Regions from separate parts of the Homo sapiens genome. Here all the other regions are linked to region 2. Evidence: fine-mapped expression QTL. A gene starts in region 2. Each other region holds a variant in brackets. All regions are shown on one strand. Distances are between the middles of the regions.

Region 1 (4,065 bases), 240 kb before region 2:
GCCTGCACTGCCAGCATGGCTCTCACAGCCCCCCAAATTGTTTTCCTCTGAAAGGTTCAAATCTTGACTCTGAAACAGACCTCATAATGAAACACCTATGGGAAAAGTCTATTCTCTGGCCTCTTTCCTGAGCTCAATAATGTTTAATTTTTAAAAGCGGGGGAGGGAGGGAGGGAAAGAAGAAGTCTCTGATATTTCTCCAGTGCACTTGGCTCTCATAGATGGCCTTGGCCAAAACTCACCACCAGCGATTGTGCCAGAACACCTGGTTTGAATTCTGGCTGCCATGCTGCTTCATTTAATGAGATGGTCCCAACTTACTTTACTATTTAAAAAGAATTTGAGGCCAGATGCAGTGGCTCATGCTTTTAATCTCAGCACTTTAGGAGGCCGAGGTGGGCTGATCATGAGGTCAGGAGATCGAGACCATTCTGGCCAACACGATGAAACCCTGTCTCTACTAAAAATACAAAAAATTAGCCGGGCGTGGTGGCGGGCGCCTGTAGTCCCAGCTACTTGGGAGGTTGAGGCAGGAGAATGGCGTGAACCCAGGAAGTGGAGCTTGCAGTGAGCCAAGATCATGCTACTGCACTCCAGCCTGGGCAACAGAGTGAGACTCCATTCTCAAAAAAAAAAAAAAAAAAAAAGTGTCCGGCTTCATCTCTCCTTTCTTGTCACTACACGTATCACCTAGTCACCCAGCAGTTGTACTCAGAGTCAAGGACTAGTGCTTCTGCACCTGAGAAGAAGCATCTCCGGCTACCCATCGGAAGAGCGCTTTGTCTAAGGAGGCCTCAAACTTCAGCCTCCCGACTTGCAATCTGAGTCAGGAGCCAAGCTGTGCAAGTGGACAAGCGCCCTCGGAAGATGCTGTCTCCCTGTCGGAGCCAACTGGCGCACTCACCCTCCCTGCTCAGCTCAATCCATCAGCGTGTGCTGCCACTGCCGTAAGTCAATCGGCTCGGGGCGGACAGCTATCAGAGATGAAACAGGGACAAGGAAAAGAGCTTAATGGAATTTTATTTTGAAAATATGGCAAGAGTCTAAGGCACTTCAAACATTTAAATACATAGAGGACCAAAGTAAATGTGACACGGTAAAAAGGAATCCATAAATACAAAGAGAACACTGTGTTTCTCTAGAGGCAAATACAGAGCCGATTCCTCTAACACAATCCAACCTTTAGCATTGGAGTTGTGCAATTAATACAAATGATGATGTTACGTGTAGTTCTTCATGGCTTTAGTATGGAATACAAAAGCTGAAAATACTGTGTCAAGTTCATATAGATACCCTTTTTATAAAAAGTCATATATTACATCTACCTAGTTAAGACCAAATGAGAATATTCTTTTGTAAGTTTTATACTTTGTCTGGCCCAGGCCCAAGTTACCAATGATCAAAGTCATCTCGACTTCCTTATTTTAAAATAAGACAAAAGAAAAATCCAAAACTATGCTGGAATGAGATTTTGGAAGAACTTTCTAATGGTTCCACATTTAGTACATATAAATATTTGTGGAAAAATCTTAAAACGTCTCAGTGAGAACCAGACACCACTTTGTGGGAGTGAACAGAAGGTGCCCCTTCAGATCAGAATTCCCTGTGACTGTACAAAACGGAGCAGAGACTCAACAGCAACAGAGACTGGGTTAAAGTGTGCCCTACACAGAAGACGGCCAGAAAGGAGGTGTGTGTGCCCAGGCTAGCAGTCTCTGCACTGTGAAAGCTTCAGCCTTTACCCCTGGGCTTGATGCTTCTGTTTGCTGGTGAGCTCAGGCACAATACGTATACATTCAGTATCTGTCACCCCAACAGGAACAATTAGCAGCTTAATAGTGGCATGTAAATAAAGGGCTATTTGCATACAATCAATCAAATGAACCTCGGTGGGTGGGGCCAGGAGACGTCTTCCTTCCAAGCCTAGGGGTGCCCTAGAGACCAGGAAAGGAAAAAAACTGGGGGTTAATAAGTGACCTCAGGCAGATGTGTACCCTGTGACATAGGATCTTGGCCCACCACAGGCAACAAGCAGCTGTGAGCCCGAGCCAGGAGAGCTCTGGCTGAG[A/T]ACAGGGAACAGGTGTCCACAGCTCCAAGGCCAGCTGGGCTCAGCAGTGCTATGTCCGGCTGTCCTGGGAAGTCACCTTCCCACTCAGAGTGAACTGTGGACTACAGGCTGCCTGCCATCTGCTTCAGGAACAATGCCAGAACCATGGCGAAATATCCCCATGGGCTCAGGGGCTGCTATCTGGATAATTCTGCACAGAATCAAAACCTCTATGGGAAGCTGTGAGCATATGTCTTGCAAGGACAAGCAAGGTCCAGCCTCTGCTAAAACATTAGTTCTCCTGCTTTTTGCGGGGTGGAGGCGGAAAGGATGAACTCTTAAGCTCCAGACTAAAACTTCCATTTTCTGAATCAACATAAAATCTGTCTCCCGTCAATTCCTGGAGGAAGGGGGTCCACCAGTCTGGTGGATTTCAGCCTATTTACAAATGCCAAATGCACAACACTGACCGGAGACTGGGCTTTTGCAAAGTTGACATGGGCATACAGAAGAACAGCGATGTCCTTGTGTCCTGCTTCCAGGGCGATTGAGAGCGCAGTGCTGCCATCCTTAAGATAAGATGGAAAGAACAAGCCATGTTGGGTTTCTCAAACCTCCAGACAACCGAAAGGTAACAGAACAAAACACCCTCCAATAATTGGCAAGGTTCCCCAAATATCCCTACTCGTTCGGTCTTCTGGGAAACTTTTTTGGGACCTCTAAGGGTGAAGGCCTGAGGATGTGAAGATGAATGAGGCAAGCCTCCACCCTCCAGAGGTCCCAGTTAAGAGGATTATCTTACTCAACCATTCTGCCCACCAGGAGGGGGAAGCAGAAGATGGGGATAGAAAGTTTTTTTTTCTTCTAATTAATTATGAATGACCAGGCAAGCAGCAGTAGTGTGTGTTTAGAGACTCTGCAATTTGCCAAAGATCTTTTACCTTTCCTCTTAGAGAGGGCACTGTGATCCTAAAACCCTAAACCACCTCGGTTTAAGGCTACAAGTAACATCTGTGTGTAAGCACGCAATCCCAGTGGGTTGCACAGATCCAACTTCTGGAAATAAGAGGGGAAACACTACATATGGGTGAAAAAAGCTTCACTTAACTGCTTGATTTCCATTAAATTTCAGGGATTTAAATGGATATAAAGGAGTATCAAGGGAAAGAACAACACAACTTGTCTTCTGTCTAGTGTGTTTTTTGAGACAGGGTTTGTCTCCCAGGCTGCAGTGCAGTGGCACGATCACAGATCACGGTAGCCTTGACCTCCAGGGCTCAAGTGATTCTCCTGCCTCAACCACCACGGTATCTGAGACTACAGGTGCATACCACCACACCTAGATAATTTTTTTTTTGTAGAGATGGGAGTCTCACTATGTTGCCCAGGCTGGTCTTGAACTCCTGGGCTCGAGCGATCCTCCTGTCTCAGCCTCCCAAGGTGCTGGAATTACAGGAGTGACCCACTGTGCCCAGCCTATCTAGTCTTGAAATACGGATTTCCCTCTGGTCAGCAGCAGCAGCAGGACACAGTTCTCTTTGGTTTAATCTTATGATCCTTCCCCTCAAAAGCTTTGAAAGATAATAGAAGTAAAATCAAACAAAAACCACAGCACAGCTAACAAACTCTTCTGGAAGAAAGAAGTCGGTCAGAAGCTCTCCCTCCCACAGAGGGGAAGAAGGGAATCTGCTACAGCTGCAGCTTCCATGTGCTCCTGTGGAGATGGCTGAGTGTGAAGCTAGTCAGTCCCTCATACCAGTGAAAAACTCCGCTGGTTTTTCTCCCTACTGGCTTGGGCCCAGAAGAATCTGACCTACAAAGGATATTTTCCTAACTTTTTGGTGTTTTGAGCTAAAGAAGCTCTGATCCAAACCTGTGATCCACAGAGATAAACTTTCAAAAACGGAACCAAGCCAACCCGACCTCTGTGACCTTTACACCATCTCACTGCCTACATGCCAGTTCCTACCTTCTACCTATCACCACTCCTGTCCTTTGGCCTAGAGACACGCAAAAGT
Region 2 (4,065 bases):
TTTTCCATCCTCCTCCTCCCACTTGGGATAAAAAGTTAATGTATGCACACATTAACTCAGAACTATTTGTGAACTGATACTCATGAAATGAAACTAGTCTTGAATGTATCAATTCCAGTGGCCATTTGCCTGTGGTTTTTTGGTTTCTTTCTTTGGGGCCAGTTTGGATATTTTAAAAAATTACTTTTAAGCCTAGTCTTTTTTCCTTCTAACATTCCCTGCCGAGCGCGCACGCACACGCACACACACACACACACACACCCAGAACTCACTTTCGCTGAGGCAGAACCTCGACTAGAGTGATTTATGGACTAGGCAAGTCTAGAGCCCAGAAAGCATCCCTGTGCCCTAAGGGGATAAAATGTATTCCCAACTTGTGGGTCTCTACAGGAGGCAATTATTCCTCTACTGGCAGCTTCTCTTCCATCCTTATTCATTTTAACCTCCCCATAGGACAGCCAATACTTAATTTTTCTTCCATTGCTTCAGCAGCACCTTTCCCCAAACCTAGTAACAGAAAAAGGATCAAAGTTAATCACCTCTCAGTTTTCTCACTCAGTCTCTATCTTAGAAAAACTTCCTAAGTAGCTGCCTTAAAATGAGGGAGAAGGGCTGGGAGATGGAAGAATGACTGCTAATCGGTATAGGGGTTCTTTTTGGGGGCAACGAAATGGAATCAGATGGTAGTGATGATTTCATAACTTTACGGATATATTAAAAACCACTGAATTTTGACCTTAGAAGAGTAAATTTATATGTTTATTACACTTCAATTTTTTTTAAATAAAACGTGCTCAACATTTTAGTAGAGAAAGTTGGATGAAAGGAGAAACTGGCAGATGAACAGCTACTTAGCTGTTAACGCCACCTAAAAATGAACTTGAATAAACTCAGGAATTCAATATAAGCAAACAGACCCTCATTTCCATTCAGCTCCAGAGGTGGGGGGCAATGACGGTGAGGAAAGGAACTGCACGATTACACATCTGGATGATTAAGCTTCCTTATTAGCCTCGGGTATCAGGGTCTAATAGAATCCACTATTTAATAAGATGGGCTGACCCTCCGCAGAGGCCACGTGCGGAAAGCGAGCGCTGGCGGACGCCATAAATTGTTAACGCCAACTCGCCCAAGGCCTTCACTAGGTCACGCTCGTGCAGCACGGCTCGTGCTGACCCGCAAGAGCCACCAAGAACAGTTGCCTCTGAAAGTTCCACGGGACCCGGGTGAAGGAGATGAACGGTCAAGGAGCCGTGGCTGCCGCGAGCGCCACTGCGTGTTGCCCAAAGCGGCACAGAAAACGCAACATTCGGGGACCAGCCCGCTTCAGGGCCCCTACACCTTCCCTCGACCTGGAACCGCGGGACCTCGGAAACCCACGCTGCCCGCGCCGGGTTGGGCCGCCCCAGAGGCCGCAGCGCCCACGCCCCTCCCCCGCCTCCCCGCCCTCCAGCCCCGGCCGAAGCCACCTCGGAGTTGGCGGAGGGCGACCCGAGGCCACCTGCCCCTCTGGGGCCGAGGATAAAGGGGTCTTGACCGCCACTCCCTCCCGCGAAGGGCAACATCCAACTCCACGGAGAGCCGCTTCAGAGAGGGTCCCCCGTTCCGCCCCGGGCTAGGGAAGGGCCCAGAGGCATCCGAGGGACAGAGCGCCGGGCCGGGGTAGCCAGGCGCCCGCACCCTCCCGCCGGCCGGCCCGGCCCGAACTTTCTCGCTGCTCCGTGCCCGGCGCGCCTCTCCCTCCTCCAGACCGGCCGAGCGCCGCCGCTGCAGAGCGCGCCAAACTCCGACGGCCGCGGGGCCGACGCCACCTCTCGGACCCCCCCCCAGGACCGCCCCGAGGCCGCCGGGTTCACCCGCACGAGCGGGAGCCCGCGGGGGCTGCCCTCCGCCACCGCCACGGCCGCCGCGCAACCCCGGCGCGCGCCAAGTCGGCTCCGCGCGGGGCCAGCCCGAGGCAGGGGTAGGGGCCTCGCGCTCCGGGACAACCTCGCCGCGGCACGGGGCGCGGCACGGCCCCGCCGCGTCACTCACCTTCGGCCGCTCCTCCCAACCTGCCGGCCGCTCGCTCGCTCCGCCGCGGACCCGGAGCTCGGGGAAGGGCGGGGCGCAGGGGGCGGAGTCGGCCCCGGCTGGCAAGCGCCAGAATTAAAGCCCGAACCGCACGGCCGCCGCCGGGGCGGGGAAGCCGGGGCGGACCAGCAAGCCTCTCACCCGCGGTGGGCGACAGCTGTGGCTGCGCCCCGGAGCGGCGCGTGAGAAGAACGGCGCGGGCCGGCGAAGCCCCGGCTGCTCCCTCCGCCCAGAGGACGCCCGGCTCCCCGCGGGGGCGCTCTTTGTACCGCGGAGCCGGCCGCGGGCGGCCCTCAGTGCGCCTGCGCGCCGCTGCAACTCCACCAGGCCCGCGGGGCACCTTCGTGCACCTTCGTCGCCGCGCCTGGCCCGCGGGCCTCGCCGCGGCGAGAACTAAGCAGAAGAACTTCCTCCACCGCGGTTCGCTCCTTCTGCCAACCCGTATTTACCACGTCCATCCTCGCACACACACCCGCAAGGGGAGAAGAAATCCAGCCCCCGTGAGACGGTGCGGTGCTCCCATCTCCGGCTGGGGCGGGGGTTCTGGCAACGAGGCTGGCCTGCTCGACGTCCTCCCCCAGCGCCTCTGTACCTCCTCTCCCTCCCCGGGTGAGGGGGACCGGAGCGTGCAGAGCTCTGTTTCCTGCAGGTGCCTCGTCAGCACGGTCGCCCCGGCGGCCAGAAACCTCCCGCCTCCAAGGGCACCTCCCTTGTGACCTCCGTGCATTCGCCCTGGCTCGGCTGCAGGACAGAGTCCTCGGCGGAAAGGGGAGGATGCGTGTTCAGAAGGTTGCAGGTCTCTGGGGACTCCACAGAAGACCCAACGCCTGCCTCGGGGGCTCAGGATTGAACTGGCTTCCTAGTTCAGTCCCAAATACTCGATTTGGAGCAATCCAGTAGGTCCATGAGAAATTAGTAGGGATTGAGAAGCTGTGACTTCAGTCTTTTTCAAATTGAAGGTGGCTTGAACAAACAGAAGAGGAGCTTGGGAACTGAAGGGACGACTTTATAAAAACCAGGTATTACTCAAAAAACAATGTTAGCTCTGCAGTCAACTGATTTTCTTAAGGGAGAGAGTCCTCCCCTCACCCCCAAGCTCTCTAGCACCGCACACATCCAGCAGGGCGTTACACACGCTCAGTCTTTTTTGTGAGTGTGCAAGTGAAGAGCCATCAAACTTCACAAGGCGACATGCTTGCCTCTGGGGAGAAGACGCTGCTTTTCCACAGTTCACAGCGAAGCACACCTGCAAATTCCTGAACTTGATGGCTCCTGACTGTTTAGGGAATAGGCAAAGGGCAGCCGGAAGATATGTGAAGGCAGGAAAGCTCATTTTGAATCTCAGCGCCTTTGCCAGCTCACTGGGTGGCAGTAAGCAAACTCTTTCCTCCTCCTGGGCCTTGCTTTTTCGTCTGTAGAGTAGGGCATTTGGATGCAGTAGATATTTTCTAAAATCCCCCACCACCACCACCCCGCCCCAAATGTCTACTCTTCTATGAAAAGGAGAATTGTTTGCATGGTGATAAGGGATGAGATATCAGAGGCAGGAAGACTCCTGCATTTTAAAAGTGCTCGTCGGCCAGGCGCAGTGGCTCAGGCCTATAATCCTCACACTTTGGGAGGCCGAGACAGGTAGATCAGTTGACCCCAGGAGTTCTGGGCAATACAGTGAAATTCTGTTTTCACCAAAAAAAAAAAAAAAAAAAAAAAAAAATCAGCTGGGCGCGATGGCGCGCGCCTGTAGTCCCAGCTACTCTGGAGGCTAAGGTAGGAGGATCGCCTGAGCCCTGGAGGTCGAGGCGGCAGTGAGCAGAGATTGAGCCACTGCATTCTAGTCCAGGCTACAGAGTGTGACCCTGTCTCAAAAATAAATAAATAAATAGTGCCCTCGACCGGGTGCACTGGCTCACACCTATAATCCCAGCACTTTGTGAGGCCGAGATGGGTGGATCACTTGAGGCCAGGAGTTCAACACCGGCCTGGCCAACATGG
Region 3 (4,065 bases), 170 kb before region 2:
ACAGGTGTGAGCCACTGCCCATAATTCTGATTTTTCTTACTTCATTTACAGTAAGTCCCTGAACTTCTCTGTGACATTACATAGGGATGATGATGACAGTAAAATAATAGCTTAATCTCATTAGATTATTGTGAGGATTAAGTATGAAAATGCAGGCAAAGCATTTTAGGCACCATGGTGCATTTAAGTGTTCAATGAATGTTAGATATTATCATTCATGTCTTTATTATTGATAGCAGTCCCACAGCAGAATCTATAAAAGTCTCAAGAAGCTGGGCAGTAAAAAAGGTCAAAAATGGAATGGACAGGGAAAGATCAGTCATCCCAGAACAAATAACTGAGTTTATCTGGGTTTGGGTTATAGTGTTCTACCCAGAGGAGATAATTGCAGCTGAGACCGCTAGAATAAAAAGTCACATTCATGGGCTGGGAATGCCCACTTTAGAGGTCACTTCCTGCTGTTGTCTTCAAAAGTGCTTTACGGCTTACATAGCTCCTCTAAGTATGTTTCTGGTGCGCTCACTGGTCCTAAACCGGCAGGTGGATATACTTACCGATGGTTTACATGTGGAGAAATAGCCCTGCCCAATATTTCACGGTTAGTGCTGGAACTAGGACTCAAATTCAGGTTTCCTGGCTCCAATTCTACACTTGCTCCAGTATATAATGTTGTCATTTGAAGGTGTTCAGAGCCAGCAGACGTAGGAGTCTGGACTCAGACGCTCAGAAAAAATTTCTGCATAGACAATTACTATTCTTACTCATTCAGCTATTTGGCACATAACTCAAAAAAGAAATGAACACTTGGCACGCCATTTTGGGCAGGTTGTCCCTATGGTGATGTGTCTCTTAGGAGGATCTTCTCTGCATTTCGTGTACAGATTTCTCCCGAATCTCACAGAAGCAATATTGGAACAGAAAGTGAAACTATGTAAGTCTCTAATATAACCAAAATAAGAATTCAAATACAGGTCTTTATGATTCATAATATGGCTTGTTGCATATTCCTAAGAGAATCATTTTACAGAATATATACTTCTCTTCCCTCCTTTCTCTTTGTTTAGCAACATCAAACAAAAGCTGCTTGGGAGTGGCTACTAGGAATTGGTTTTAAGCATCCAAACTAATTTCCTCTCTCCTCATTCAATCCCTCAGAAAGAAGTGCAAGAGGAGTATACATTACATTTGCATCAGCATTCAGTATTTACATTTGTCTTTCAACACTTCAACAGAATTGACTTAGGTAATAATTTACTCAATTGATTTCAGTGCAAGACTCTAAGATAAAAGCAAATTTTCTGAGAGTAAAACAAAACAAACCCAAACTTCAATGGACAGAAAATTGCTTTGAAATCCTAGTTATCTAGGCAACTTGCTATTATCCGTTCATTATTAAAGAGAATAAAAAATTAGTTTGAGAAAAGACATACATTTAACACACAAACTCCAGAGCACAGGGTTACCTGAGGCACTGCCGTTAACCTTTGTGGTGTGAGCCATGCTGGCTTGAGTCCAATG[A/G]GAGATCCAGAAAGGAGTGAGGAGTCATGCAAATTTTATGCATCAAGTTCTCAAAGGCATTCAACCTGAAACAATAAAGAGAGCCCCATCAAAATGGATCATTTAAAAAATGTACAAACTAAATCTTAGACTTCTGTTTACAAAGATGACTGCTAACAGAGAAAGGAAATCGGAATGGGGGGAGAAAGACTATAGATCCAGGAGGTGACTGCATTGGACCTGGCAGTATGGAGATAACACCCACGGATGTACCAGTGGCTACATACTGAAAGGGGGTCTCTACACATAATAATCTATGGGAAACAAAATTGGTTCTCTAGAAATGAGACTATTTTAGGAAAGTGGTCACCAAATACAAATGACTTCCTAATGTGTAGCACTCTACGAAATATTTTTGGTTTTTAAGCATATCTTCCTTTCCAAATTCTGGTTCAAAAAGTTCATTTATTCAACTGCAATTTCAAAGCAATTATTGCACCAAATGTTTACATTTTTAAAAAGATTAACTTCATGGAAATTCTTTTGAGATATCCGAAGTCTTTCTACCAACGCCTCTTTCTTACATGCAACCACCTTTCTAAAGCACAAATCTGATCCAGTCAGTCCTCCTCCTCTTAAACAAAAATTCATTATCTCCCACTGTGCCGTTGGATAAACTTCAAATTATTAGAGGCATTCGGACCAGAGCAACTCCATCTTGAGTAGGGGCTAGATAAAATAAGGCTGAGACCTTTATTTTAAGTCTAAATTCCCAGGAGGTTAGGCATTCTTAGTCACAGGATGAGACAGGTCAGCACAAGATACAGGTCACAAAGACCTTGCTGATAAAACAGGTTGTGGTAAAGAAGCCGTCCAAAACCCACCAAAACCAAGATGGAGATGAAAGTGATCTCTGGTCATTCTCACTGCTCATTATATGCTAATTATAATGCATTAGCATGCTAAAAAACATTCCCACCAGCAGCAGGACAGTTTACAAATGCCATGGCAATGTCAGGAAGTTATCCTATATGGTCTAAAAAGGGGAGGACCCCTCACTTCCAGGAACTACCCACCCCTTTCCTGCAAAACACAAGAATAATCCACCTCTTGTTTAGCATCAAGAAGTAACTGTGTGTATAATCAGTTGAGCAGCCTACGCTCCTGCTCTGCCTATGGAGTAGCCATTCTTTATTCCTTTATTTTCTTAATAAACTTGCTTTTACTTTACTCTATGGATTCACCTCTAATTCCTTCTTGTGAGAGATCCAAGATCTTGGGGTCTGGATTAAGACCCCTTTCCAGTAACAAAATGATAGAGCATGGCACATAGTTCTGAAACACCGGGGTCCACATTGGGCAATATATTCATTTTGCATTGATATTTCTATTTAAAAGTTACCTGAGATTACCATAATAAGACTTATATTTCAATCACAAAATTTAAAACAAAAAAAGAAAAAAAAATACAAAAAAGTATACTGTTTCCCCTTTGGTTTTTGCAAATACCTTTCGAAAAATACTAGCAAACAGTAAACAACAGTACATATAGAAATCCCATTTCCATTGTGCCCAAACTCTGACTCTAGACCCATGAAATCAGAAGAAGTTGGGAGAAATAAATTCTAAGTTGAGAATTAAAGTGTCAATTCAGAAACCCACATGACCTCTTAACAACAGAATGCCAAAATAATATCTGTATACACTAATTCTAATGCAGCCATTGAAATCATATAAGTTTTTAATAAGGCAAAATATTCAAAGTATGTTGGTTAAAAGAAAAACAAAACTGTATACTATCCTAAACCTAATTTTATTAAAAATATGTATGTGTATATGTACACATTTAAACGATGAGAAGTAATTGTACCAAAATGTTCACTGTGGTGGTTGCCTCTGGGTGATGAAATCATGGATTTTAGCTCTTTTCTTACTTTTGTAATAATAATCATTATTAAAAATAAATATTTAGGCCAGGTGCGGTGGCTCACACCTGTAATCCCAGCACTGTGGGAGGCTGACGCAGGCAGATCACCTGAGGTCAGGAGTTTGAGACCAGCCTGGCCAACATGGCAAAACCTCTTCTCTACTAAAAAATACAAAAATTAGCCAAGGCTGGTGGTGCACGCCTGTAATCCCAGCTACTCGGGAGGCTGAGGCACCAGAACCACTTGAACCTGGGAGACGGAGATTGCAGTGAGCTGAGATTGCACCACTGCACCCCAGCCTGGGCGACAGAACGAGACTGTCTCAAAAAACAAAACTAAAAATTTAGACCCCTTCTGTCTTATTTGCTTTAAAACCCTCAGGGAAAAGAAAAGGTATTTTTTTAAATGCTATTCAAAAAAGGAAACTATCAGGCTACAATCATGAAGATTATAAGGGGTCAGAAATATAAGTAAATAAAAAGGAAAGAAAAGGAAATGGCTGATTGCTTTGATCACACAGGGTGAGAATTTCTTGCCACTTAGTGAAATTTCCCTCATTGTTTAAATGGGTTTGCACCACAGTTCAAAGCTAACTACTGTGAAAGCAACTCAGTGTAAATTCAAAAGGACCCTTTTTTCT
Region 4 (4,065 bases), 130 kb before region 2:
CAGTGAATTGGCTTTGTGTGTGCAATTGGGCAATTACAAATTAATTAACCCCAGAAGTTCATTTCTGAACTTATGAAAAAGATAAACCTTTCTTACCATGTAAGGCAATTTGTTTCAAGGTTTTCTTGGATTTTGACTTGCATCTATTTATGGCTCAGTGCAGTGGCTCATGCCTATAATCCCAGCACTGTGGGAGGCTGAGGCCAGAGGATCACTTGAAGCTAGGAGTTGGGCCCAGCCTGGGCAACATAAGGAGACCCTGTCCCTACTAAAAATAAAAACTTAGCCAGGTGTGGTGGCATGTGCTTGTAATCTCAGCTACTTGGGAGGCTAAGGCAGGAACACCCTTTGAGTCTAGGAGTTCAGGGCTGCAATGAGCTATGAACATGCCACTGCACACTAGCCTGGGTGACAAAGCGAGACCCTGTCTCAAACATTAATAAATAAAACATATTTAAACAGTAAGCCTGGAAAGATGAGTCAGAATGAATTATTGAGAGCTCATATGCCAGGTTCAGGAATCTGGATACAATGCTATGGACAGACAGACTACATTAAGAGTCTTGGGAGAAGGGGTAGCACTGTTGGAAGTAACTTGAATGGCAAGACAAAAAAAGGTGTTTTTTTTGTTTTGTTTTGTTTTTGAGACGGAGTCTCGCTCTGTCACCCAGGCTGGAGTGCAGGGGCGCGATCACGGCTCACTGCAACCTCCGCCTCCCGGGTTCACGCCATTCTCCTGCCTCAGCCTCCCAAGTAGCTGGGACTACAGGCGCCCGCCACCACGCCCGGCTAATTTTTTTTGTATTTTTAGTAGAGATGCGATTTCACCGTGTTAGCCGGGATGGTCTCGATCTCCTGACCTTCTGATCTGCCCGCCTCGGCTCTCAAAGTGCTGGGATTGCAGGCGTGAGCCACTGCGCCCGGTCAAGGGTTGGGTTCTTATCAATAGTCCATAAAAGGTTTCATTAAATATCCTTCTTATGGGGCACTAAAAGTGAGTGTAGAAAAAGTCACGATTGGACAGAAAATGGTAGGAAACCTCATAAGATGTGGAGGGAGGGGGCCATGTTACCTCTGCCGTTTTGCTTTGCTAAAACACTCACTCTCAGGCTGGGAGCAGTGGCTCACGCCTGTAATCCCAGCACTTTGGGAGGCTGAGGCAGGTGGATCACCTGAGGTCAGGAGTTCCAGACCAGCCTGGCAAACATGGCGAAACCCCGTGTCTACTAAGACTACAAAAAAAAATTAGCCGGGTGCGGTGGCGCATGCCTGTAAACCCAGCTACTCGAATGGCAGAGGCAGGAGAATCACCTGAACCCAGGAGGTGTAGGCTGCAGTGAGCCGAGATCTCACCACTGCACTACAGCCTGGGCAACAGAGAGAGACTCCATCTCAAAGAAAAACAAAACAAAACAAAACACCACTCTCATTATCTCATGAGGATCAAAGCAGATAATGTGATAATCAATTACAAGATAAATCCTCAGTGTGACTCCACGGAATGAAAATGTCCTCCCCTGCCTCTCACCTTGGCAGTCCAAGGTGCATTTGAAAGAAGTTGTAAAAAATTACAAGCTGCTTTATTTTTCATAAAACCTCCATCTTCACCAGTTACAGTATATGTAGTAATTATCTTTTCCATGCTCTCAATAATTATCTTCTTAACCAGTTTTTAAAATATTTTCCATTCAACTTTCATTTTAAGATTAACAATACAATTACTAAACCACTGATTCCTTTAACCTCTTCTCTTAGAGCCCTAAGGTAAAGCTCAATTATTGAGACAAATAATTACATGCTGTAGATGTATCATCCTAGATATCAAAATCTAGGGGCATGCAATTTTAGTAATATTTTTGGCCAAGAAAATCTGGAAAAGCTGGCTGCCAATATCTGATGTTAAAGGAAAATATGAATTCTGACTTCAAAAGAAGTTCACTGCCACTTTCTAACGTTTGACCATACCTAGTCAAACTTAAATTGAAGGTCAAATGTTATTTCCTTTTCATTGCCTTTATTAAGTGACTGTTAAAGGCTAGACACAATGCTACGGAGACAGGGATTAATGACACAGTCTTTGTACTCATGCAATACAGAATGATGGAAGAGAAGTTATCATGGCATACTGTAATTTAACAGTATGTTAAATACTTATCCTATTGGTGTGAGCTGAGAGCTATAGAGCCACAGCGGTAGATAACCCAAACTGGTATGTGAAGAAGGGTTATCTGAGGACACCACCCCTGAAATGAGGCTTAAAGATGACTAAATTGGCCCCAAAGGGGAGGAAGTACAGTCTTCAAAGAGCACCCAGAGCAGATGCAAAGGGAAGAAGAGACCACAGAATGGGGTGTGTGAGGAGTTAAATATGCAAGGGATGGATGACTACAGGTTTTGCATGCCAAGCTAAACAGTTGGACTTTATTTTGGAAGCAGCAGGAGTCACTGAAAGACACCTGAGCTCAGAAGCCACCATATTGGGTTAGTTTTCAGTAA[C/T]TACTGCTCTGGCTGAGATGAGGAAAACGACTTGCCTTGCCTAGAGGAGGAGGAATGTGGAAGAAGGAGATCCTAAGAGGGTGTTTCAGTGCACAGGTATAGTGGGGAATTAGGAGGGAGGTCTGGGCTGGAAGTACAGATAAGCCTCAGTGCGTGGGATGGCTGAGCTCAAGGGTATAGTTGATGGTCCTCAAGGAGATGAAAGGAGAAGTCTTAAATCTTGGATGGAATGCCAAGGAGACTATGAAATTTTCCTGGTTAAGGCTGCCCAGGGGGAGCCCCACAAATCCTGGGGTGCTAATGAGGCCGCACAGCATTTCTTTTTCCGTGTGGGCTGCATAACTTGCATAGATAATTCTGCTTGCTGGGCATAGGCTGTACTATATATTTAATCTATTTTCAACTCAACTTATAAACTCATGCCCTTTGTCTCAAAGGCAAAGGAGTAAGGAAATATTTGTGGTACAATGCAAAACGTATTAACGCTGAACAGAAACAACAATAACAGCAGCAAAAGACACATATCACTCCTAGAACTGCTTATACCAAGATACATATTTCTACCAACCAGTCATACCCTCACTTGGCCTTTTCCTTAAACAATCAACAACCAGATATTGACTAAGCACTTTTTGTTTTGTTTTGTTTTTTGAGACAGAGTCTTGCTCTGTCACCCAGGCTAGGGTGTGGCGGCATGATCTCGGCTCATTACAACCTCTACATCCCGGGTTCAAGTGATTCTCGTGCCTCAGCCTCCCAAGGAGCTCCTCTACATCCCGGGTTCAAGTGATTCTCGTGCCTCAGCCTCCCAAGGAGCTGGGATTACAGGCGCCTGCCACCACACCTGGCTAAATTTTTGTATTTTTAGTAGACACAGGGTTTTACCATGTTGGCCAGGCTGGTCTCAAACTCCTGACCTCAGGTGATCTGACCGCCTTGGCCTCCCAAAGTGCTGGGATTACAGGCATGAGCCACCGCGCCCAGCCCTAAGCTTTCTGCAGCCTCTCTCACCTTCCACCTGAAACGAAGCTACTCTTCAGGTTATTACTTTTTATCCTTCTGAGTCTCGCTCTGTCGCCCAGGCTGCAGTGCAGTGGCGGGATCTCAGCTCACTGCAAGCTCCGCCTCCCGGGTTTACGCCATTCTCCCGCCTCAGCCTCCCGAGTAGCTGGGACTACAGGCGCCCGCCACCATGCCTGGCTAATTTTTTTGAACTTTTAGTAGAGATGGGGTTTCACCATGTTAGCCAGGATGGTCTCCATCTCTTAACCTCATGATCCGCCTCAGCCTCCAAAGTGCTGGGATTACAGGCGTGAGCCACCGTGCCTGCCCCCCAACTCGTTTTTTTTCTTTTTTTTAAGACAGAGTCTCGCTCTGTTGCCCAGGCTGGAATGCAGTGGTGCAACCTCAGCTCACTGCAGCCTCGAACTCCCAGCCTCAAGCAGTCCTCCCACCTATGCCTCCTGAGTAGCTGGGACTATAGGCACATGCCACCACGTCTGCTAATTTTTGTATTTTCTAGTGGAGACAGCGTTTTGCCATGTTGGCCAGGGTGGTCTTGAACTCCTG
Region 5 (4,065 bases), 250 kb before region 2:
CGTTCCTTTGGTCATTCAAGGCCTTCCATTAATCAATCTCAGCAAGTGTACTTTCTGAGTGTCTTGTCTCTTGGAGGTGAATTTACAGATGAGAGAAGATATAAACAAGTTGCCTCCTTTCCCAGTGAAACACTGATGTCTTCTCCCTCTTCTAACTCATCTCAACTTGGTCTCTGAACTTAGCGCTGTGGACATACCATATGTGTCCTTAGGCAAGAGGATCTTCAATTGGTTCCTGGGTTCATTGGACCCCTGTGGCTTTCCAACACAGATGACTCAGTCTCTTGCATCTCAGTGTGAACACCTAGGATGACCGTTTTTCTGCTCTGGAAAGGAAAAACACTGTGCACTTCTGCCTGATGGCAGAATCAGAACCCAGGATGGAATGCAGAGGCAGCAGCTGAGAGGGCAGCAGTGCAGCACACTCTCCTCCATGCCACCTGGGTTTCCAGAGGAGACCATGATTTTTTTTATTATTTTTTGAGACAAAGTTTTGCTCTTGTTGTCCAGGCTGGAGTGCAACGGCACTATCTCGGCTCATTGTAACCTCCGCCTCCCGGGTTCAAGCGATTCTCCTGCCTCAGCCTCCTGAGTAGCTGGGATTACAGGTGCCCACCACCATGCCCAGCTAATTTTTGTATTTTTATTAGAGACAGGATTTCACTATGTCGGCCAGGCTAGTCTCGAACTCCTGACCTCAGGCGATCCACCCACCTCAGCCTCCCAAAGTACTGGGATTACAGGCATGAGCCACCGCACCCGGCCAACCATGATTTTTTAAAATGTGCATTCATAAGGGAGTGAGCTGACACAGAAACTCATGGGATTAGCATAAAGAAACATTACTTTCTAAGGGAAATGTATGAGTCATTTTTTTTTTTTAAGACTGCTGTGAGTCAAGTTCTATGGCCAAATTCTGGATGAATACAGGATTTATAAACACTTGATATATTGTACAAGCTGTAGAAAGACTTCCTATTGGGCAATGGTATCTTTGCAGAATTTGTTTTTTATACTGGGAAGCAAAAGTTCCACAGGGAACAAGTTAACTCATAAGGTTTAGTCACTGGAAACTGCAAAAGACGAAAGCCTACAAAGATGAAAGAACAGACACTTTAGAGCTCCCTGATGGACAGGAATCCTCCTTATCAGAGCCCTTCCTCTAGAGCAGCATTTCTCAAAGTGGGGTTTCTGGACCAGAAGCATCAGCACCACCTGGGAACTTGTTAGAAATGCCAATTCTTGAGCCTCTTTCCAGACCTACCGAATTGGAAAGTCGAGGTTGAGGCCCAGCAGTGTGTTTTCACAAACCCTCCTGGGGATTCCGATGCACACCAAAGTTTGAGAGCTACACGTTTCTAAGAGACAATCTAGGCAGACTGTACACAGGAAATGGCTTTCCTTTCACAAAAATATGTAGTCCCTAGTGCCCTAAGGCATCCACTGTAGATAATAGGTTACATTCTCTCTCTGCAACTAGGATGGTACTGGTATGTACCATCCCTGGGGATTATTAAGAAAATAGTCATCCAAATAGTTGTCATTGTTCTATGATTAAGTCCCCAGTGACAGTTTTGTTGCTGTCCGCCAATCAACTAAGCCATTTGGTTACACAGCAGCACTTCACTTCGAGGAACCAGTTTTTGTATGGATAAAGAAAATCTAAGTTACGCTGTGACAGCAAGTCACTCCCTAGCTTCTCTGGCTTAGCATAATAAAGGACTATTTCTTGTTCCTAATACACCTGCAACACAGCTTGGCAAGGAAACTCTATTCCACGTAGTCACTCAGGGTCGACACTAATGGGATGTCTGTGTCAACACTTGCTTCCGTGATCATCACTGTGACAAGGGGAGTACAAGATACGGTAAACTGCACTGGCTTTTGAGGCTTCCATCTGGAACTGACACATAACCTTTTCTGTTTCATTGGAGAAGTCACATGGCCAAGTGTAACTTCAAAAGTGTGTGGGTAGTACATCCGATCCTGTTGTGCCCAGAAAAAGAACTGGAGTATCTGAGAACAGCCCTCGTGACTGCTATTCAAGGTTACGAGTGGGCCACAATGGCCATCATGCAAAACTATGTGGTCACATTCAAGAAA[T/C]AGCAGGGCTAAGAGTTTCCAGTTTTTACCTTCTTTCACTATCTCTTTGATTATATTGACTCTCAAATCTGCACCTTCCTTCCCAAGGTTTTTTTTGATCAAACTTTTTCATTTTCTTAAACTTTAAAAAAAATTGAAGTTAATATACATACAGGAAAGCACACACGTGTGTCTACAGCCTGATGAATGGTCACAAAGTGAGCATAACAGTGCAACTACCCCCCAGGCAAGAAATTGACCATTACCAGGAGCCCACCAGCCCCATTTGGGCTCCTTCCAGCTCCCTCATGGCAACACTCCTGACTTCTAACACCATCAGTTATTTTTTTACACTCATTCATTCAACTAGTATTTCTCAGCTAGGCACCGGAACTTCTCAGTCCTGGCAGATGGTGTTACAAACCGAAGCATGAGATTTCATCCTAATAAGCTTCCTGTTGGAAGACTGGATTTTTCTGGGGGTGGGGGTGACATATTTTAGGCAGGATTGGGGGTGGGTGAGCTCTCTGAACTCTCAGGGATTTTACCTAATAAATATTTTCCTTATTACCTGTTTAAGCACATCCAGTACTTCCTAAAAGAGCAGATGGGACCATAGCAAGAATCTCTTTGCTGCCCGACACATGAGAAGCGGCCTGCCCAGCTGGCACTTGCTCTCCTACAACCAGCCTCAACAAGGCATCGAGCTGCCTGCACCAGTGACAGCAAAGCAGCACCTGCCTGTCTGCAGCTCAGGGATTTTCTCTCGCCCTCAGTCGTACAGCCTTAGCCTTCCAGGTGGTTTCTAGGGCTGGGTAACTAGTTCCTTCTGGGTTGGGGAATGGGGAACAAGTGTAAAAGTTATTTTGGCTCAAATACAAGATTGACATTTGGTTTTAGAAATAGGAATATTTGTTATGCAGCTTCCATTTTATGAAAATGAGGGATATGTTTTCCATCCTCTTACCTATTTAATCAACAAAGGTCTTAATGGAGATGCAGTGGGCAGCTGGATTCTTAAAATGCCAGCTCCTTCCCAACATCCTCTAAATCAGACATTTCTGTCTAAGCATGCACCTGCAAAAATGATATGTTGTTTTCCAGCTTCACTGCAAGATCCTTGCCAGAATTCAGGATAGGTATCTCAAGGATATCATTACAAGTTCCAAATAATGCCATCTTTCATGCTTGAAAAGCCATGACTGTCTGGTCCCTGCAGGGAGTAGCTGGTGCCTTCAGTGGGGAGGGGTTCGAGCGTGAGCAGCTCAGGAACGTTGTGGTCTACGGTTCAGCCACATCCTTTGTGGTAAGAAACTGCAACAAAATGTACTTTATATTTTTATAATCAGCTGGCTTTTAAATTACAGCCATGCTGAATAAGAGCAGAGAAAACGTATGATTAGTAATTTCCTTATGCAGAAAGTAGAACAGTTTCTGGCTAAGGCCTAGGGCTTTAAAAAAAAGGTGCTTTTAGTAAAAAAAAGAAAATGGAAAATTCTTTATTCCAAAGCCAAAGCAATGGTTCATGGCCTCCTTCTGAGCAGTAATAGTCCAACTCCACGAGGAAGTGGAAATGGAAAAGATTAGCTTGGGAAAATATTCTAAGGGCTGTCTGCCTGCCCAGCCACTGTCACCTATATACTGAGCCACCTTCTCTGGTCCTTACAAGCACAGAAAAATGGATCTGTGGCAGTCATGGTTCCTGGACTTCTAGAAATGACTATATTCCAGGAGATGCAGAAATGCTACTGAACATGGATGTGCAGCACCACAGAAAACCTATGTGGGATCCTGATCACCAGTGGAAGCCCGGCTCCTTAGAGAGCTAAGGTAAAGCCAATGTTTGTTTTGATGTAGTTCCCCCACCTTGCCTAACATGTGTGGGGAAGAACAGATGCATCATGTCTCATACTTTGGGAGCAACAGCTTCTTAGTGTGGACCAAAGGCTATGTTCAGAAACACCTGGGATGCTTGTTAAGGAT
Region 6 (4,065 bases), 200 kb before region 2:
AGGATCAGGTCATGTGTTGTTTTCCCAGAGCCACGCTAATAAGCTGCGCATTTTTAGAGCTATGGAAAGAACTCAAAAGCAATGAGTGAAAATGTAAGCCATCAGTCTCCCTGCCCTCTCCTGAGTATACAAACCCACTTGACTGCTGTCCAGTTTGAAGTAACTTCCAGCAAACCTGGTTGCTGTCTGCCCTCCCAACCCCCAGCACTGCCGAACATTTACACCCGACAGTGTGAATGCTGTGAAGAACACTTCTGCTTCCATCTGCCCGCTTTCTTCCCAAATGTTGGAAAGAAAGTACAAAAATAAGATTGCCAAGCAGAGGAATAAAAAGGACGTATATTCCTTACGTCCCAATTTAAAACAATATTAAATTGCTCTAGCTGTTCGATTCTAACACGTGTGGGAAGTGAATTCTATGTGAAAGAAGTGCCCAGCAGCAGTCATGCTCTAGCCTAAGAATGGGAGGGCTGGTCGGGAGGGCTGTGCCTGGAAACTTGTGCTCGTGTTAAAAGAACGTAGCTGTCCTTCTCTCTTTCCCTTTTAACTTTCATCTCCACATGGAGAAGGTGATCACTCAAAATATGCAGCCAGACCTGTCTCCAGTACTGTCTGAAATTCCATTAACAGGAGAGAAGCTGCAGCAGCCAGACCTGTCTCCAGGACTGTCTGAAATTCCATTAACAGGAGAGAAGCTGCAGCAGCCAGACCTGTCTCCAGGACTGTCTGAAATTCCATTAACAGGAGAGAAGCTGCAGCAGCCAGACCTGTCTCCAGGACTGTCTGAAACTCCATTAACAGGAGAGAAGCTGCAGCAGCCAGACCTGTCTCCAGGACTGTCTGAAACTCCATTAACAGGAGAGAAGCTGCAGCAGCCAGACCTGTCTCCAGGAATGTCTGAAACTCCATTAACAGGAGAGAAGCTGCAGCAGCCAGACCTGTCTCCAGGACTGTCTGAAACTCCATTAACAGGAGAGAAGCTGCAGCAGCCAGACCTGTCTCCAGGACTGTCTGAAACTCCATTAACAGGAGAGAAGCTGCAGCAGCCAGACCTGTCTCCAGGACTGTCTGAAACTCCATTAACAGGAGAGAAGCTGCAGCAGCCAGACCTGTCTCCAGGAATGTCTGAAACTCCATTAACAGGAGAGAAGCTGCAGCAGCCAGACCTGTCTCCAGGACTGTCTGAAACTCCATTAACAGGAGAGAAGCTGCAGCAGCCAGACCTGTCTCCAGGACTGTCTGAAACTCCATTAACAGGAGAGAAGCTGCAGCAGCCAGACCTGTCTCCAGGAATGTCTGAAACTCCATTAACAGGAGAGAAGCTGCAGCAGCCAGACCTGTCTCCAGGACTGTCTGAAACTCCATTAACAGGAGAGAAGCTGCAGCAGCCAGACCTGTCTCCAGGACTGTCTGAAACTCCATTAACAGGAGAGAAGCTGCAGCTTGGCTGTCAGGCAGGCTGATCCGGGCCTCCCGGGATGTGTGTGTGGGAGCCGGCGGGTCTAAGCTGGACTCCCGTAGGCCTGCGGTGGAGTGAAGCGGCCCAGCAGTGCGCACCTTCCCGGCCGGCCCCCCTCGCCCAGGCCCCCCGGAATTCGGCCAGCGGTGGCCGCCCCACGCCGCTCGCAGCTCACCTACCACGTGGCGCCCGCCGCGCTCCCCGCCAGCCCGCGCTGCCCCGCACAGCTCGCTCCAGCTCAGCCGGACCCGGCCTCGGGCGCCCTCGATCCTCACCCCGTGAGGAGAAGTTTCAACATTCGTGTAAACTTGGCCGGCCACGCTCGGATGCCATAGGCTGAGCTTTCACCGGCGAGGTCTCCC[T/C]CCGGCTGCAGTGACACCACCCCCGCCGCACTCAGCTGTTCCGCATTCCCTGTTTTCTTAATGAAAACAGGAAACCGGTATCTTCTGAAAATGTGTGTTCTTCACTCCCGCTTTGCCAGCTGATTTTTAAATAAAGCTAGCACTTTAAGCATCTCTACAGAGAGGCTCTGTTTTTCCTATACTAGTCACTGCTTCATGAAAGAGTCTGTGTCCTCCTGCCCAGCCCTCGGTCACCTGAGGAGGTGCAGAGGCACAATCAGCCCCACTGTTCTCTGCGGGTTCTCAGGATCCGGGCAGCACTCACTGGTTCCAGAGCACTGCCTGACTCTTCTCAGCCCTGGGCTTATGACACGTGGCAAGTAGTTATCCTTTATCATTAATTTCAACTGAGCCTTTGCCACTGATGAAAAGTTCTTCTTAAAAAATGAAAGAAAAACAAACCTTTTTCCAGATACGAAAGTAGTACATGCTTGTAAAACATTAAAAAAAAAAAAAAGCCACATACAGATAATTTAAAGAACGTAAAAAAAGGGCACTCAGATCCTACCATCAAGTGGCAAGCGTTAATATTTTGGTGTAACTCCTACTTTTTCTATACTTTTCCCACTTAAGGATTTTCAGTAGGAAAGATGAACTGACTCAACATCAGTATTTAAAACACAACAAAACTTATCACAGTTTTTACCAAAACCTAACTGGTCCATCTTTAGTTATTTCTTTAGTTCACCTTGTAGAAATCACAAAAAGCATGTATCACGTTGTATTACCCCCAAATGAACTTTGGACTTCTGGGAATCAGAAGAGGTTAGAATTTAACTAAGTTAGGCTTGCTTATTTCCTAATACTGCTCAAACCAGGCTACCCAAAGGACTTGTAATTCAAGTTTCATTCTCCAGCAAGTAAAAAAGTAAGATGTGTTTTCAAGGTGTCATTTTCACAAACAATTGTCCATGGTAAAAATTATTCTACAATAAAACTACCCGGTGTCATTATTTTTTTAATATCCTGTTTTCTAGTGTATGTTTACATACATCAACATAAATTAGGCACTTATGAGTCCCTGATTTATTTCCCAACTTTAACAAGACGAAAACACTTTTTTGTCTTTTGTACCAGACTATAAGCACCCAGAGAGCAAAAAACTTAATTAAAAAAAATTTTTTTTGGAGAGCACGCTGGCTCATGCCTGTAATCCCAGCACTTTGGGAGACCGAGGAGGGTGGATCACTTGAAGGTCAGGAGCTCGAGACCAACCTGGCCAACATGGTGAAACCCCATCTCCACTAAAAATATAAAAAATTACCCAAGCATAGTGGCGGGCACCTGTAATCCCAGCTACTTGGGAGGCTGAGGCAGGAGAATCGCTTGAACCTGGGAGGTGAAGGTTGCAGTGAGCCAAGATCACACACATTGCACTCCAGCCTGGGCAACAAGAGCAAAACTTCATCTCCGCCCCCACCCCCCCAAAAAAAATATACATTTTTTTTTTCATTGCTTCCTCTCCCAACCACACACCAATTATCAACATGCTGGGAAGAAAGGAGATGTCTGACAACGTTTACTGAAGGAATAAATAACTGAATATATAGTATAACATAATAAACTTGCTAGAGTGCAGTGGCGCCATCTTGGCTCACTGCAACCTCCACCTCCCTGGTTCAAGGGATTCTCCTGCCTCGTCCTCCCGAGGAGCTGGGATTACAGGCGTGTGCCACCACGCCCAGCTACTTTTTGTATTTTTAGTAGAGATGGGGTTTCACTATGTTGGCCAGGCTGGTCTCAAACTCCTGACCTCAGGTAATCTGCCTGCCTCGGCCTCCCAAAGTGCTGGGATTACAGCTGTGAGCCACTGTGCCTGGCCAACAGAATAAGATAATAAACTTTGAAAAACATCTTGATGCTCTGAAGACAGAAGTTGTTCGTTAAATATTAGTGTTAAGGACATTTCTTCCATGATATTGTTTCAGTTGTTATCTTTAGGTTGTGGAATTATAGATGATTTTTATTCTTTATATTTTATAATTTTTACAACACGTGGGTATTGCTCTTTTTTTTTTTTTTTTTTTTTTTTTGAGACAGGGTCCGACTCTGTTGCCCAGGCTGGAGTGACGTGGTGCGATCATGGCTCACTATAGTCTCTATCTCCTGGGCTCAAGTGATCCTCCCGCCTCAGCTTCCTGAGTAGCTGGGAACTATAGGTATGTAGCACCACGCCTGGCTAATTTTAATTTTTTAAAATTATTT
Region 7 (4,065 bases), 23 kb before region 2:
AAACAACTCCAATTCTTATCACATGAGGGGCTTATTTCCCTTAGGTATAATGTCATACAACTTGGTAACAGCCCAATGGCAAAGGATATGAACAGTTCGCAGAAACACAAATACAAACAGCTCTTATAAATTTATGAAAATATGCTCATTCTCCTAAGAGAAATGCAAATTAAAAACAGATGAGATACCATTTTTTACTTAACAGATTGGTAAAGATTAAGAAATGTCATAACATACTGTACTGGCAACGATATAAAGAAACAAGTGCTTTCATGCCTTGCCTGTGAGAGCATAAGTTAGCACAGCTTCCATGAAAGGCAGCTGGAGTAACATCTGTGAGAAGTACAAATGCACATATGCATTCACCTGGTAATTCCATATTCATCACACATGGCACTATCACGTGTGAGCATAATACACGTACAAAGTTACCCCTTGCAGCATTGTTGGATGTAGCAAATCAATAGGAAACTGATTAAACAAAATATGGAGTTTAAAATCATACTATGCTGCTCTTTAAAATGATTTTAAAAAGAAACCCATACCTCCACATGGAGCAGTCTGAAGACACATGGTTCTATGAAAAAAAGATGCATAACAATATATGAAGTCTATTATCATCTGTGATTTCACAGGGAGAGAGAATATGATCATATACACACATTTTAAAAATATGTATGAGGCCGGGCGCGGTGGCTCACACCTGTAATCCCAGCACTTTGGAAGGCGAAGGCAAGTGGATCACGAGGTCGAGAGATCAACACCATCCTGGCCAACATGGTGAAAGCCCATCTCTACTGAAAATACAAAAATTAGCTGGGCATGGTGGCGCCATTGCACTCCAGCCTGGCGACAGAGCAAGACTCCGTCTCAAAAAAAAAAAAAGTGTATATATGTGTGTGTGTGTCTGTGTGTGTGTGTATATGTGTGTGTGTGTGTGTGTGTATATATATATATATTAACAGAGTTATCTCTGGAAGGAGGAATACCAGTTGCCTGTAAAGAGAGAATATGGTAGCTAGTACAGGAAGTGGGTGGCTTTTCACTATACACCTTTTACATCTTTTAAATCTGAGCCATGGGCCAGGCACAGTGGCTCACACCTGTAACCCCAGCACTCTGGGAGGCCAAGGCAGGAGGATCACTTGAGTCCAGGAGTTCAAGACCAGCCTGGGAAACATAGTGAGACCCTATCTCTACAACAAATAATAAATTAGCTGGACGTGGTGGTATGCACCTGTAGTCCCAGCTACTCGGGAGGCTGAGGTGGGATGATTGCTTAAGCCCAGGAGGTCAAGGCTGCAGTGAGCAGTGATCATAAGACTGCATTCCAGCCTGGCTTACAAATAAGATCCTGCCTCAAAGAAAAAAAAATTGAGACATATTAGCTTGAAAATGGCATGGTGGCTCATGCCTGTAATCCCAGCACTTTGGGAGGCCGAGGCGGCTGGATCACCTGAGGTCAGGAGTTTGAGACCAGCCTGGCCAACATGGTGAAACCAGGTCTCTACTAAAAATACAAAAATTAGCTGGGCATGGTGGCGGGCACCTGTAACGCAGCTACTTGAGAGGCTGAGACTGGAGAATTGCTTCAACCTTCAACCCAGAAGGCAGAGACTGCAGTGAGCCGAGATCAAGCCACTGCACTCCAGCCTGGGTGACAGAGTGAGACTCCGTCTCAAAAAAAAAAAAAAAAAAAAAAAAAAAAAAGTTATTTTTTAATTCAGTAAAATGGTTGTAAGGTAAAGCTGAGGAAATCCACCAGAAAATGGAATAAAAAGACCAAGACATAGAAAATAGGAGAGAAAAAGGTAAGATAATCAGAGGATTGCCCAGAAGGACCACCAACATTAGAAAATGCAAATTCAATGAAAAGAGGGAAAGTTATCTAAATATAATTTTTTAAATGTTCCAATAATTGAAAAACATTAAGTTCCCAGTTTGAGAAGGCCATTGTGTGCCCAGAAAAATGAATGCAAAAAGACCAATCAGAATACTTGGACAAAAAGAAAAATCCTAAAAAGTTTTTTTTTTTTTTTTCCCGAGACGGAGTCTCGCTCTGTTGCCCAGGCTCGATGGAGTGCAGTGGCACGATCTCGGCTCACTGCAAGCTCCACCTCCCGGGTTCATGCCATTCTCCCGCCTCAGCCTCCCGAGTAGCTGGGACTATACAGGCGCCCGCCACCACGCCTGGCTAA[T/C]TTTTTGTATTTTTAGTACAGACAGGGTTTCACCATGTTGGCCAGGATGGTCTCAATCTCCTGACCTTGTGATCAGGAGTGCTGTGATTACAGGCATGAGCCATCGCGCCCCGCCCCTAAAAACTTTTAAAGAGAAGTGAGGGGAAACTCTATTTTTTTTTTTTTAATAAAAAGCTGGAACTTAAGGGAACAATCTCTTTAAAGTTCTGAGGGAAAAGGACTTTCAAACTAGAACTGTACACCTGGCCAAACTAGTAAGTGTGAAGGTAAAAGAAAAAAAAAAAAAAGACAATTTAGATATGCCAAATCTCAAGGAGACTATCTCCCTTGTAACCTTGTGCAGAAGCTGTTGGCCAATGCTCTCTACCAAGACCAGAGAGCAGCCGAGTGTAGTGGCTTACACCTGTAATTCCAGCACTCTGCGAGGCAGAGGTGGGCAGATCACCTGAGGTCAGGAGTTCAAGACTAGCCTGGCCAACATAGTGAAACCCCATCTCTACCAAAAATACATAATTAGCTGGGTGTGTTGGCGCCTGCCTGTAATCCCAGCTACTTGAGGGGCTGAGGAAGGAGAATCACTTCAAACTGGGTGGCGTAGGCTGCCGCGAGCCAAGATCGCGCCACTGCACTCCAGCCAGGGCGACAAGAGTGAAACTCCATTTCAAAAACAAACAAACAAACAAACAAAAAACACACAAAAACCAGAGACCAAAAGAAACCACAAAGGAGGAGGATACCATAGTATCCAGGGAAGAGAAACAGAGAGAAGGTACAGAACGGCCTGGAAACTTCAGAAGGGACGCCTTCAGGAAGAAAGGATGAATGGACAGCTACCCTGAGGTGTGCAAACACACAGAAAGGAAGGTTAGGCTTCAGTTTGGGAATGAGTCAGTGACAGGTACTTAAAACAAGCACTCAAAACAATGATTAACTCTGGGTGGGCAAAAGCTGTATGAGGAAGGAAATATTTAAATTACATGTCTTGGCTGTGAATTATTTCCAGTCTAAATAATACTATAAACATTATATATTAATCAAACAAAAATCATATTAATATTACAGCAGGAGAAGAGACGTGTTGGGGGAAGTCATAAGAGTTATATCTTCATCTTCCACAGTGTGAGGAAAGTAAATATCCAAAATTGAATTTAAAAAAATCAAGAAATGACATGATAAGCATGCTTTCTCAAGATACAGTCATTTTCACAGATCTAAAGCAGTCAAATATCAGCATTTTCTTATGGTTCAACATCAGAAGATAGATGAGAGATTCCTCTGAGGAGAGGGAATCAGGTGGGAAAAGCAGGGCAGAAAGCTACTGTTTTCATGGACGGTTTTGTAGAACAACTTGACTTTTTGAAGTATGAGAAGACACGTACATAAAACATTGCTAAATTTCATTTAAATAATTTTTTGTAATTTTTATTTTTTTGTACAGAAAGGGTCTTGCTAGGTTGCCCAGACTGGTCTTGAATTCATGGCCTCAAGCAATCCTCCAGCCTCGGCCTCCCAAAGTGTTGGGATTACAGGCACGAGCCACCACACCCAGCCTTAAAATCTGTCCTAGAGCCAATATTCAAGGGTTTTTCCCATATGAGAACCAATGATGGTCTTATGTGTGCTGCTCCCATAATAAAAGCCATATTTCAAATCACATCTAAGTCTAAGACTTCTAGGTCTACTGCTGCTGGTGCTGCCCACCAGCTCCTACCTGTGGGCTGGGGAACAGTCATTGCTCTGCCGTCCCGTTCTCTGGGAGAAATGCCTGAGAGACAGCACCAGGATCACACTCCTTGAAGACTTCAGAATTTTTCAGGTTTCTCATTAGCTCCAAAATTTTTATAATTGTAAAGTGACTAAGATCACA

Direction of the effects. Positions count from the first base shown, and alleles are read on the strand shown. Sizes are in standard deviations (SD) of each study's normalised expression. Not every link is listed here.
In carriers of allele T in region 6, the expression in skeletal muscle of the gene that starts at base 2,094 in region 2 tends to be lower than with C alone (large effect, 1.4 SD a copy in FUSION).

Evidence for each region. PIP is the estimated chance that this variant, and not a neighbour inherited with it, causes the effect.
Region 1: its variant is the best candidate, but not a certain one, in a credible set for the expression of KANK1 in esophagus mucosa (GTEx, PIP 0.84).
Region 3: its variant is the best candidate, but not a certain one, in a credible set for the expression of KANK1 in sun-exposed skin (GTEx, PIP 0.57).
Region 4: its variant is the best candidate, but not a certain one, in a credible set for the expression of KANK1 in cerebellum (GTEx, PIP 0.65).
Region 5: its variant is the best candidate, but not a certain one, in a credible set for the expression of KANK1 in lymphoblastoid cells (GTEx, PIP 0.73).
Region 6: its variant is the best candidate, but not a certain one, in a credible set for the expression of KANK1 in skeletal muscle (FUSION, PIP 0.82).
Region 7: its variant is the best candidate, but not a certain one, in a credible set for the expression of KANK1 in whole blood (TOPMed, PIP 0.86).

What each region holds. Positions count from the first base shown.
Region 1 is chr9:743,042-747,106 of GRCh38, reverse strand. KANK1 (KN motif and ankyrin repeat domains 1) reads right to left here. Exons shown (of 12, transcript NM_015158.5): 11 at 2,518-2,616; 12 at 1,004-1,934. The coding sequence ends at 1,872. Among named protein-coding and RNA genes, the nearest start is that of KANK1-AS1, 60 kb to the right of the region's middle. The variant A/T (reference allele first, on the strand shown) is at 2,069.
Region 2 is chr9:502,724-506,788 of GRCh38, reverse strand. KANK1 (KN motif and ankyrin repeat domains 1) reads right to left here and starts at 2,094. Exons shown (of 12, transcript NM_015158.5): 1 at 2,035-2,094. It overlaps LOC105375947 (translation initiation factor IF-2-like), which reads left to right and starts at 1,236. Exons shown (of 4, transcript XM_047424276.1): 1 at 1,236-1,529; 2 at 1,620-1,850; 3 at 1,968-3,092. The coding sequence starts at 1,236. The coding sequence ends at 2,789. RefSeq lists a silencer at 1,969-2,458.
Region 3 is chr9:674,408-678,472 of GRCh38, reverse strand. KANK1 (KN motif and ankyrin repeat domains 1) reads right to left here. Exons shown (of 12, transcript NM_015158.5): 2 at 1,464-1,583. The coding sequence starts at 1,500. The region is part of intron 2 of KANK1-AS1 (KANK1 antisense RNA 1); the gene reads left to right. Among named protein-coding and RNA genes, the nearest start is that of KANK1-AS1, 9.1 kb to the left of the region's middle. RefSeq lists an enhancer at 3,842-4,065. The variant A/G (reference allele first, on the strand shown) is at 1,519.
Region 4 is chr9:630,037-634,101 of GRCh38, reverse strand. The region is part of intron 1 of KANK1 (KN motif and ankyrin repeat domains 1); the gene reads right to left. Among named protein-coding and RNA genes, the nearest start is that of KANK1-AS1, 53 kb to the left of the region's middle. The variant C/T (reference allele first, on the strand shown) is at 2,497.
Region 5 is chr9:749,183-753,247 of GRCh38, reverse strand. It overlaps LOC124902109 (a long non-coding RNA gene), which reads left to right. Exons shown (of 4, transcript XR_007061394.1): 2 at 2,663-2,897; 3 at 3,752-3,912. Among named protein-coding and RNA genes, the nearest start is that of KANK1-AS1, 66 kb to the right of the region's middle. The variant T/C (reference allele first, on the strand shown) is at 2,104.
Region 6 is chr9:704,821-708,885 of GRCh38, reverse strand. All of the region lies in intron 2 of KANK1 (KN motif and ankyrin repeat domains 1), which reads right to left. It overlaps LOC107987042 (phosphatidylinositol 4,5-bisphosphate 5-phosphatase A-like), which reads left to right. Exons shown (of 1, transcript XM_017015393.3): 1 at 1-1,978. The coding sequence starts at 561. The coding sequence ends at 1,463. Among named protein-coding and RNA genes, the nearest start is that of KANK1-AS1, 21 kb to the right of the region's middle. The variant T/C (reference allele first, on the strand shown) is at 1,822.
Region 7 is chr9:526,115-530,179 of GRCh38, reverse strand. All of the region lies in intron 1 of KANK1 (KN motif and ankyrin repeat domains 1), which reads right to left. Among named protein-coding and RNA genes, the nearest start is that of KANK1, 23 kb to the right of the region's middle. The variant T/C (reference allele first, on the strand shown) is at 2,199.